Regions from separate parts of the Homo sapiens genome. Here region 2 is linked to region 1. Evidence: fine-mapped expression QTL. A gene starts in region 1. The other region holds a variant in brackets. All regions are shown on one strand. Distances are from middle to middle. Region 1 holds the start of ZBTB7B (zinc finger and BTB domain containing 7B). Region 2 holds the start of FLAD1 (flavin adenine dinucleotide synthetase 1).

What was found. PIP is the estimated chance that this variant, and not a neighbour inherited with it, causes the effect. A credible set is the group of variants that fine-mapping cannot tell apart.
Region 2: its variant is the best candidate, but not a certain one, in a credible set for the expression of ZBTB7B in whole blood (TOPMed, PIP 0.83).

The regions. Positions count from the first base shown.
Region 1 is chr1:155,000,641-155,005,640 of GRCh38, reverse strand. ZBTB7B (zinc finger and BTB domain containing 7B) reads right to left here and starts at 2,839. Exons shown (of 3, transcript NM_001256455.2): 1 at 2,698-2,839. RefSeq lists silencers at 361-410, 471-520, 1,571-1,690, 3,401-3,590, 3,701-3,940 and 2 more and an enhancer at 195-867.
Region 2 is chr1:154,978,030-154,983,539 of GRCh38, reverse strand. CKS1B (CDC28 protein kinase regulatory subunit 1B) reads right to left here. Exons shown (of 3, transcript NM_001826.3): 2 at 5,426-5,510; 3 at 4,289-4,815. The coding sequence ends at 4,763. FLAD1 (flavin adenine dinucleotide synthetase 1) reads right to left here and starts at 196. Exons shown (of 7, transcript NM_025207.5): 1 at 1-196. RefSeq lists a silencer at 284-463 and enhancers at 346-943, 1,544-2,141. The variant A/C (reference allele first, on the strand shown) is at 2,262.

The DNA of each region.
Region 1 (5,000 bases):
AACTCTCAGGAAGGTCAGGGAGCCAAGCGGGGCAGAGGCAGGAAGCCCCGCAGCAGGCCCAGAGGCTTCTGTCAGAGGGCAGTGCCCTGCCTGGAGCCCATTCACTACTCATCTTGGGGCCTTGGTCTTGGGCCAGAAGAATTGGGTCTCTCAGCCATTAAGAAGGGGGCAGTACCAGGCCAAACCTTCTCCATCTGAGCAGTCCCCTGGGCAGTGACTTCTGACCCCAAATGCCCAGTCCTAGGCTGTCCCTCAGTCTGATGCCATCCAGGCAGCCATAGGATCAGGGGCTGGTTCTCTCAGCCTTGGCTTGGAATGGGGGGCTGGCACCCTATCTGACCTACTTCCCTTTCCTCCCCACCTGCTTTCATTTGCTTCTCTCCCCCAGCCTTCACTGTCCCCACCCCAGAGCGCTCCGCCCCCCATGCCTGCTGGGCCCCCTCCCCCACCCTTCCCCAGGGTGCCAAGTGCAGGCACACAAAGGGCCTGATGGTGCATTGTTAGCCCAGCCCCCGCTGCCCGCCGCACCCTCCCTGGGCAGGCACTAGGCCAAGGAGGAGCTGGGGGCCCTGGGTGCCAGGGGGCACCATGGGGAAGAAGAAGGGGACAGCACCTGTCTTCCAGACACTGGGGTCTACATCAGCCAGAACTGAGTAGTGATGAGAGTCCCATTAGAGCAAGCCTGTCTCCTTGACACCTGAGCCTAGTGGGCACTGCCTTCTTTCTTCCCCAGAGCCCCATTCTGGTGGTATTAACCCCTTTTTGACCCCTGTGCCAGGGCTGGGGGTGTGTGGTACCCAAGGGAGGGGACAGTGTCTGGGGGTGCCAGCAGGTTGTGTTGTGCCCACAGCAACCATGTAACAGAGGCACGCTGGGGGAGCTGGGGTCCCTGGGGCCAGGGACAGAGGCACTGACAGAGATTTCTCCTTGTTTCATCAGCTGCTCCAGGGGGAGCCCCCTACCCTTCTCCCCAGTTACCACTAAGGAGGAACACTAACTATCATCCAGACATAGTCACACATATGTCCCTCTCTAGCGCAGCACAACACTCCTTATGCCCACTCTCTCCTCCCCAACCTGATGTCCACTCCATGCCAGCTCTCCCAGCAGTGCCAGGCGGGTACAGGGGTGACCAAACCAGTTGGTGTGTGTGGGGCAGCAGGAGGCAACCCCATAATCCTCCAGGCCTCATCCCCACACTCACACATACTCCCTTAGGGACCAGACAGTTCCCATCCTGCTTTAACCCCTCACAGCCCAATCTGGTTCCCCCGTCCCTGATAAGCGGTCTCCCTCCTCCAGGAATAAGTTGGGGGAAGGGGGAATAGCTGCGCTGACTCATTCCCATTCTCGGCTGCAGCTAGGGGTCTCCAAGGCATTCGGGCGGGGGTCAATTCAAGAACACCCTCCACCTGGCCCGGAAGCCTGGACAGCCTGCCGGTCTCCCCCTCTCCCCAGCACCCACTTCCGGTGTCCCAAACTAGGTCAGCAGCGCTCGTTTCCTGTGGGTCAGCTAGCACCGGCGCCTCTGCCCCTCCCCTGCTCCGGACCCAGGCTCCCCGCCCCCCTGCCCCCCAGGGCGCCCCGAGGTCTCACCATGTCTCAGCCGCCCTTTGATACGTGGGGGTTGTGCGGGGCGGGGGGCAGGGGACCCGCCCTCTCTCTAAACACCAGCAGGGCCGGGGCGCCTGGGCAGGCACGTGTCCGGGCACAACCCGCTGCCCACGCCGCCCCCCCACTCCCGCCCCCACCTCGCTCTGGCCGGGACACGTCGCTCTCTTACTTGGGATGGGGTGGGAGGAGGGAGAGAAAGCTGGAAATTGAAAGCAGCGCCCCCCACCCCTTTGAATGGCAGCCTTCTGCCAGGCGCACTCTGTAGGTTCTACAACAACACAGTAGCGACCCCCACTCTGGGCTGGGGCAGGTGCGCCGGCGCCGGTGGGGGGACGGGTAGTAGGTAGGAGAATTCTTCCTAGTCACCCGCCCTCGCTCTTGGGTTCTGTGGTCATGAGCTGGCGTGGAAAAGGTAGCGGCGGGACTGGAGCCTGAAGGAAGGGAGTGGGATTGAGGGGCAGGGAAGAGAGCGGTCGTTCTATGTCGGTTCAGAGGTTGTTGCTGAGCCCCACTACCGCTGGAGAGAGCGCGGCTCTGGAAGCGCAAGAAACCGAATAGTCCAGCCGGTAACTTTCCCCCAAGCCGCGGCTCCTCCTGCGCCCCCCCAACCCCCATGCAACTGGCCTGGGGCCAATCCACCGCGCCAGGGGGCGCGGGGTGGGGGGGGGGTGCGCGTTGTCCTAGTTAGAGTCCGTCAGCGTTTCCATTCCCTCAACTCAGTCCGGTCTGGGGTCTCCCCCTAAAGTCACGAAGGAGACTGGGGGAACGCTCAGCGTCGCCTCACCCCCTCTCCATCCCGAAGCCGTCTGTCTGTCTGATCCCAGGAGAAGTGCAGATAAACTTTCTGGGGACCCTCCGCCTAGGGTTGGGGGGCATCCGCAGTTCCTTCTCTGTCTTTCATCTCAGTTAAAACCAATTCCAGAGACCCGGGGTGTTGGGAAAGCACAGGGAAGGGGAGTGGTGGGAATGTGATCTGCATGCGTGTGTATCTGGGGGTCCCACTTACAGGACGGACGAAGGACACTGCAGTAGTCTCGAGCCTAGTGAACCCCGAGCCAGGAGACAAAAGTGGGGTACACTCACCTCTCAGCCGTCGGGTCCGCTGGCTGGAGCTGCTGAGGCTCACAGTGTGGGAAGAAGCGCGTCCCCCACCAGGCCCGGGGGCTTGGGGCCCTGCTCCGGTCCTGGTCAGAAGGCCGCGGTCAGTTGCTCGCCGCTCGCTGCTGGGGGGCTCCTCCTCCGCCGCCCTCTGCCTCCTCCTGCCGCCCGCCCCCCCTCGGCCGCCAAGAGCCGTACATTCACCTGGCTCCCACCCGCCCCCCCCTCAGGGCCCGCCTCACCTGTCCTGCTGTCTCACCTGTCCTCCAGCTTGCTTTCCCCCCATCCCTCCCCTCCCTCCCCCCGCCCCTGCCACCCCCCAAACTCCCCCCCCCCAACACTTAGAAACACCCTCTGTCACTTCCTGGTTTTTCACCCGCCCCCCCAGGCCCCCTCCCTCCGCCCAATAAGGACATAAACTTCAACCCCTTCGTCCAGCCAGTCCCTGCAGAGCGCAGATGGGTCCCTCCCTCCTTTTTTGCCCCCTTCTCCAAACTCTTACTTAGCTCTCCTAGCCTTTCCCACCCTCCTCCTTTCCCTCCTTCTTTCCTTCTCTCTGTCTCCCTTCACCTGCCGCGGTCCCTCTCTCCCCCCCCTTTCTCCTGCCCCTATCTCTCCCAGTCCACCTTAACTCAAACTCCGCCCCCGGCCCCCATCCAGCCCTTTGCTGCTGCTCTGCCCGCCCCCTGCACGCCACCGCCCTGTCCGCTCATTGGCCTGAATACCCGCTCATCTCCAGTAGGTCTCGCCTTGCGTTCGTCCAGGGAGGGGGCGGAGCCGAGGGGCTGGCCTGGAACCTGGAGAGGAGGGGGGAGGGGGCAGTGTCCGCAGCGGCCAGGGAATCGAGCACCCCCTACAGGGGCTCCCTCTCCTTCAAGAGGGGCTTCTGTAGGGTCAGGACCTCAGGAGGGAAGGGTATGAGAGGTTAGGGATAGGCTGGGTGGGGGTGAATTGGGGACTTAGGGTCTTGAGGGAGGGGGTCCCGTGAGGGGCTGTAATCAGGTCAGGGACCTAGAAGGGAGGGGGAGGGGGAGCCACCAGGCCTTCGGCTCCGGCCCCTACGCCCCACCCCCTCTCGGAGGGAGCCGGGGAGTTGAGCCTGCGGGCGCCCTGCGTCCCTCCCCACGCGTGACGGTGCCCCGCGGGGAGGGAAGGGCGCCCCAGGCAAGCAGCCTCTGTGCTGTCGCCAGTGCCCGCTGCGGCCTTGGCATTGTCGGAGGGGAGGGGCCCAGTCTGCGAAGGGGGAGGGGGCGCGCCGACGCTTTTGCTCCCCACCTCCATCCCGCGGGTTCCCTAAGTGGAGAAACTGAGTCTCCACCGAGGAGGGATAGCTTGACATGAATTCGCTGAGAGACCCAGGTGGCGAGGGGTGCCTGGATGTTTTGGGATGTGTGGTATGTGTAGGTTTTGGGGAGGACCGGGATAAATACTTAGGAGTCCCCCAACTGAGAAAGGTAGCGGGTGAAGGATGTTTCTGACTGAGCCTGCGGAGCTGCGTACCCCAAAGGGCCCCTCCCACTAGTGTCAAATGGAATCAAATCCGGCTACCTAGGGCCAGGTTTGGCTCCCCTGCGACAAGCCAGGCCGAACCGGGTCGGACTCGCTTTCCCCTCCCAACCCCCCTCCGCAGGGGGCCTCCCTCCCTTTCCAGCAGGTGGCTTCTCGGGACACCAGCTCAACCTGTTGGACCACAATGGGCGGCGCCAGGGGGGCCCTGGCCCTCACCCGGGCTGACCCGGGATCCCCGCGCACGAGGGGCGGAGTCCAGGTCCCTCCCTCCCTCTTTCTCCCTCTCTCCCTCTCCGCGCCGGGCCGTGACTCAGCCTCGGGGCCGCTGCCCTGCGCCCCAGCCAGGGGCGGAAAGTGTGAGGCGCCCCTGAGGGCTCAGGCCAAACCAAACAGCCCCCCACCCCAGACATTATCTCACTGGAGAATTAGGGGGGCTATAGGAAGGAGGAGGTAGCGGCAGGCATGGGGCGCTCTGGCTCGAGTAATCCGCTCCGGGTTTTCCTATCGTCCCTGACCCCCTTGGGTCGCGAGGCTGATCACTGCTCCGGGTTTTCTTCTCAGCCCCGCCGGACAGATCCTGGTCCGGAGGGGCCCGGAGCCGTCCAGGCCGGGGTTTTCCCCTTCCTACTCCAGCCGTCTGGGTCGTGCAGGCCTGGTGAAGGGCTGTGCTAGGGGCTAGGCGGCAGTGCCACAAGTGAAATGGAGAGGGGGCTGCTTTGGGGAGGAAGGAGGATAGCCAAGGAAAGGGGGCGGGGGGCAGGGGGCGGGGGGCGGGGGGG
Region 2 (5,510 bases), 22 kb after region 1:
GCCTTGGCCCTTTTCAATGCATTCGCTCTCCACCCCGGACCAAAATCCCGTCTCTTTCTACTTCAGGCTTCTGCACCCTTTCTAGCCCAGAATCCCTTCTTCCCACCAAGCTTCAGATTACTGAGCCCTCTTAGACTCTCACCTGCCTGTTCTGCCCCTTCACCGGCTCTTTCCCTTGTTCCTTTCCTCATGTCCCGGGGCAGCTTCCGTACTTAAAGTCCCGCCTTGCACCTAGCTGACATTGAATGGTGATTTTGGCTGTCGCTTAGACTCTTCCAGGGTCCCATTGGTGTATTCAACTGTCGCTCTCAGGCTTTAGCCAGTGGATGGGAGCAGGGCCGGATTGTTATAGGCGACAACCACGTGGTCACTTCTCGCCCGGAAATACGGGGGCCGGACCTTAGCCCACGGTCGGGGGCGGGACCTCGGGAGTTTAGGGCGGGAAAGGAGCCGTAGTTAAAGGTGCTGTAAGGCCCTCGGGGAGTTTCTGGTGCTGGATTCAAATAATTGTTATGCATGTGTTGCTTTGTTTTGTTTTGTTTAATGGGTCAGTTAGCCATGGTTTAAGCTGTTTTCATTCACCGTGACTCTAACACTAGGCTAAGGGCTTTTACTGGAGTGAGAAAGCATCTTATTTATAGCAGAAGGAAGTTGGAGGGACACCGAGAAAGATTATTACCACTGTCTGTCGGATATGAAGACCCTGGAGTAGGTGAGCTTTTGATGTGTGGAACCTTAATTTATCTCTAGTATAGTAGACAAAACGAATTACTTAAATCTCTTTGACAAGAAAGAGTCCAAAAACCCTCTCTTCCTCCACCTTGCTCCAGATGGTGCTTAGTTCAAATGACCTTTCCCAGTAATTGGTCTTGTAGGTGCAAATGAGGCAGCGAATAGGGAGTGCCTTACATGTTTACTCTGGATCCTCACATCATCCGAGCTTACCCCCATTTCAGTTGCCTTTGTTCTAAAAGTACATCTTAAACTTTTTTCCAACAATAATCTGGGGATCTTTTCATATGCAGATTGATTCAGTAGGTTTGGGTGGGGCCTGAGATCTGCATTTAGCTAGTTCCCATGTGATGGTGATCCCACTGCTCTATGGACTACATTTTGAATGGTAAGGGCCCGAATTCATTCTTTGTTTTTTTGAGACGGAGTCTCCCTCTGTCACCCAGGCTGGAGTGCAGTGGCGCGATCTCGGCTCACTGCAAGCTCCGCCTCCCGGGTTCACGCCATTCTCCTGCCTCAGCCTCCCGAGTAGCTGGGACTACAGGCGCCCGCCACCATGCCCGGCTTTTTTTTAAAAATTTTTTTATTTTCATTTTTTTTTTAGTAGAGACGGGGTTTCACTGTGTTAGCCAGCATGGTCTCGATCTCCTGACCTCGTGATCCGCCCGCCTCGGCCTCCCAAAGTGCTGTGATTACAGGCGTGAGCCACCGCGCCGGGCCGAATTCATTCTTTGTAGGACTGGTAAACCACACCTTGCCAAATTTTACTCTTCAAAACCCTTGGTCGGGCGCAGCACTTTGGGAGTCTGAGGAGGGAGGATTGCTTGAGTTCTCTCAATTGAAAAAAAGAAAAAAAGGCCGGGCGCGGTGACTCACGCCTGTAATCCCAGCACTTTGGGAGGCCGAGGCGGGCGGATCACCTGAGGTCAGGAGCTGGAGACCAGCCTGATCAACATGGAGAAACCCCGTCTCTACTAAAAACACAAAAAATTAGCCGGGCGTGGTGGCGGGAGCCTGTAGTCCCAGCTACTCAGGAGGCTGAGGCAGGAGAATGGCGTGAACCCGGGAGGCGCAGCTTGCAGTGAGCCGAGATTGTGTCACTGCACTCCAGCCTGGGCGACAGAACGAGGCTCCATCAAAAAGAAAAAAAATACCCTGTAAGATACACATCATGCTCATTTTACAGATGAGGAACAGGCTCAGAAAGGTGAAGGGATGCCACACAACCACAAAACACAGTGAATGGTGGACCCAGGTGATCAGGTGTCTAGACCATTCTTTTAAGTAATAAGCCCCCCCTCCCTTTTTTTTTTTTGAACCAGGGTCTCTCTGTTGCCCAGGCTCGAGTGCAGTGGCGCAAGCACCGTTCACTGCAGCCTCGACCTCCTGGGCTCAAGTGATCCTCCCATCTCAGACTCCAGAGTAACTGGGACCACAGGGGCGCCCCACCATGCCTGGCTAATTTTTGTATTTTTAGTAGAGACGGAGTTTGGTCATGTTGCGCAGGCTGGTCTTGAACTCCTGGGCTC[A/C]AGTGATTCCCTGCCTTGGCCTCCCAAAGTATTGGGATTACAGGTGTGAGCCCCCGTACTTGGCCCTCATTTCTTTCAATTATAAAAAGTCAGCTCTTTGAAAAAAAAAAAAAGGGCAAAACAAGAATTCCACTTGCCTAGTAAACCACATGTTCCAATATCTTTATTAGCAATACAGGTGATATTTGATCCCCTCCCAAAACAGAATACCAAGACTGTTCCAGTATTTTCCTAGTGGATTCTCAAGCTTAAGTGTACATCAGAATCAGCTGGAGAGCTTGTTAAAACATTGCTGTGCCCAATCCTGAGTTTAGGATTCAGTAGGTCTAGGTTGTTGCCCAATAATTTGCATTTCTAATGAATTTTCCCGATGTTGATGCCTGCTATTTTAGGAATAAGTGGATGGAAGACAGGAAAAATGGGGGAGATTAATATCCTTACTTAGTACTAGTATTTTTTTTTCTTTTTTTTTTGAGGCGGAGTCTGGCTCTGTCGCCTAGGCTGGAGTGCAGTGGCGCAATCTCGGCTCACTGCAAGCTCCGCCTCCCGAGTTCACGCCATTCTCCTGCCTTAGCCTCCCGAGTAGCTGGGACTACAGGCGCCCACCGCCTTGCCCAGCTAATTTTTTTGTATTTTTAGTAGAGACAGGGTTTCACCATGTTAGCCAGGATGGTCTCGATCTCCTGACCTCATGATCCGCCAGCCTCGGCCTCCCAAAGTGCTGTGATTACAGGCGTGAGCCACGACGCCCGGCCACTTAGTACTACTGTTTTGTTAGACTAGAGGGGAAGTTATTATTCTGTGGAATGTTTTTTTTTTAAATTGAGACACAGCTTCTGTCGCCCAGGCTGAGTGCAGTGGTGTGATCTTGGCTCACTTTCACCTCTGCCTCTCGGGTTCAAGCGATCCTCTCACCTCAGCCTCCTGAGTAGCAGGGATTACAGGCACACACCACGCCCGGCTAATTTATTTTTATTTTTTTGAGACAGAGTTTCACTCTTGTTGCCCAAGCTGAAGTGCAATAGCGTGATCTCAGCTCACTGCAACCTCTGCCTCCCAGGTTCAAGTGATTCTCCTGCCTCAGCCTCCGGAGTAGCTGGGATTACAGGCGTGTGCCACCACGCCCGGCTAATTTTGTTTTAGTAGAGATGGGGTTTCACCATGTTGGCCAGGCTGGTTTCAAACTTCTGACCTCAGGTGATCCACCCACCTCAGCCTCCCAAAGTGCTGGGATTACAGGCATGAGCCACTGCACCCAGCCTAATTTTTGTATTTTTAATAGAGACGGGAGTTTCACCATGTTGGCCAGGCTGGTCTCGAACTCCTGACCTCAAGTGATCTGCCCTCCTTAGCCTCCCAAAATGCTGGGATTACAGGTGTGAGCCACCACGTGTGGCCTGGAATGTTTTCTTAAACAGCTACATTTTGCACCTGTTTTCTCAAAGCTTAGTTCTTTACCTACCTGCATAAGATGCCTGAAATCTTTACCCCCAGTCCACACTCCAGACCAATTAAGAATCCTTAAGAATGACTCAGGCAGGCATCAGTACTTGTAAAGCTCCCCAGGTGATTCCAACGCCCAAGCCAAGTTAAGAACAGCTGAAAACCTTCCCCAACCAAGGGGCACAGTGAATAGGTCATAGATATGCCTATTATTCCTATTAGGAATTGGGACACACAAGCAGCCCCTGACTGACAGCATCCTTTTATCCATGTGTGCCATTCAAATATTGGGACTATGTTAAAGGCAGCACCCCGACTGTAGGAAGCAGTTCATTTGTTTGGATGAGATGAAGTTGTCCCTATATAACCTCTACCTCAGGCTAGTAGTTAGAGTGAAATATATTTCAGTAGATGTTTGACAGCAAGTCTGCTTAAAGTAGATTAAAAACCAGTTATCTCAATGTTAAACCTCATTATCAGCAAAGAGCTGAGCTTCATTATCAAACTGAAGGGCATATAATTAGAACCATGATATTGATGATGCTCACCCTGAGTGAGGGGGAAAAAACCCGTACAATTACAGCACTAGATTATAAAAACTTCCTCTTTAATCAAGGCTTTTAACATGAACAGATTTCTTGAATAAAATGGAAAGTTTCCAGTACACTGAAACATAAATCCGCAAGTCACCACACATACAACACCCGGCAGGAAAAAACAAAAACAGCAAGTTTACATGATCCCTGTAACAGCCATGGTCTCAAACTCAGATGCTTCCTCCATCTGCCAAGTGTGTTCTGGATACAGAGCACATCGTGGCTTCTGGGGTCACACTCAGCTTAGGCTGTGGGTCCACAGAGCACTCATCTGGCTGGGCTATGGTGGTGGTGGCTCTACTCAAGAAGCAAAGCAGTTACCAGCACATTCAAACAGTGTATTGAACATCTTTTAAATATCAAAGTGAGAAACAAGAAGGCAACATAATAATGTTATCAGAAAGATGTTAGGAAGTAAGGACAGCTGTGTAAAGCTTGAGGCTGAAAAGTAGCTTGCCAGCTTCATTTCTTTGGTTTCTTGGGTAGTGGGCGCCGGAACAGCAAGATGTGAGGTTCTGAAAGAGTGAGGGAAATCTAAGAGACAAGCTCACACCATTCTATGTACAACCTATAGTGTATTCCACTACCACCTCCCCAGCTATCACCCACTCAGATCTTTATAACTAAATAAAGACTTAAGCATATGGCCTTAGAAGCAGACCCAGAAGTCTGGACTGTCTGCCAAGTACAGAATTGTTAATATCAGTTCTTTTGCTATGTTTATACAGCCCCAGGGTGTCCCTTATTAGTTTTGCCTGGCAGCTGGGTGTCTGGTGTCTTATCAATAAATATACTTTCCTTTGCTTATTTAGAACACATCCAAGAATGTTTTCGATGGAGAATGAGGCAGGGGCTATGATCAGGCTATATGTGGCCTTAAAAAGAATACCCTCTGATTGAATGAAAGATTACAGGAGGTTTTTCAGTGACAGGTTGTCTCTGAACTTCCCAGATATTTTAGTCTTATTTTTGGTCACTAGTTTTTTTTTAAAAAAATCCCCCACGACTGGAGGGGGAAGGAACCAGTAAACCATTTCCTATCTCCCTATTTGGGTTATACAATCTTATTCTTTCATTCTCTCAGTGTAGCAGTTCTATATGGTTGTTTTTAGCCAGTGCACTGACCTGGTTCATGGATCATATAATGGACCCATCCCTGACTCTGCTGAACGCCAAGATTCCTCCATTCAGATTCAGACATCAGATGGGT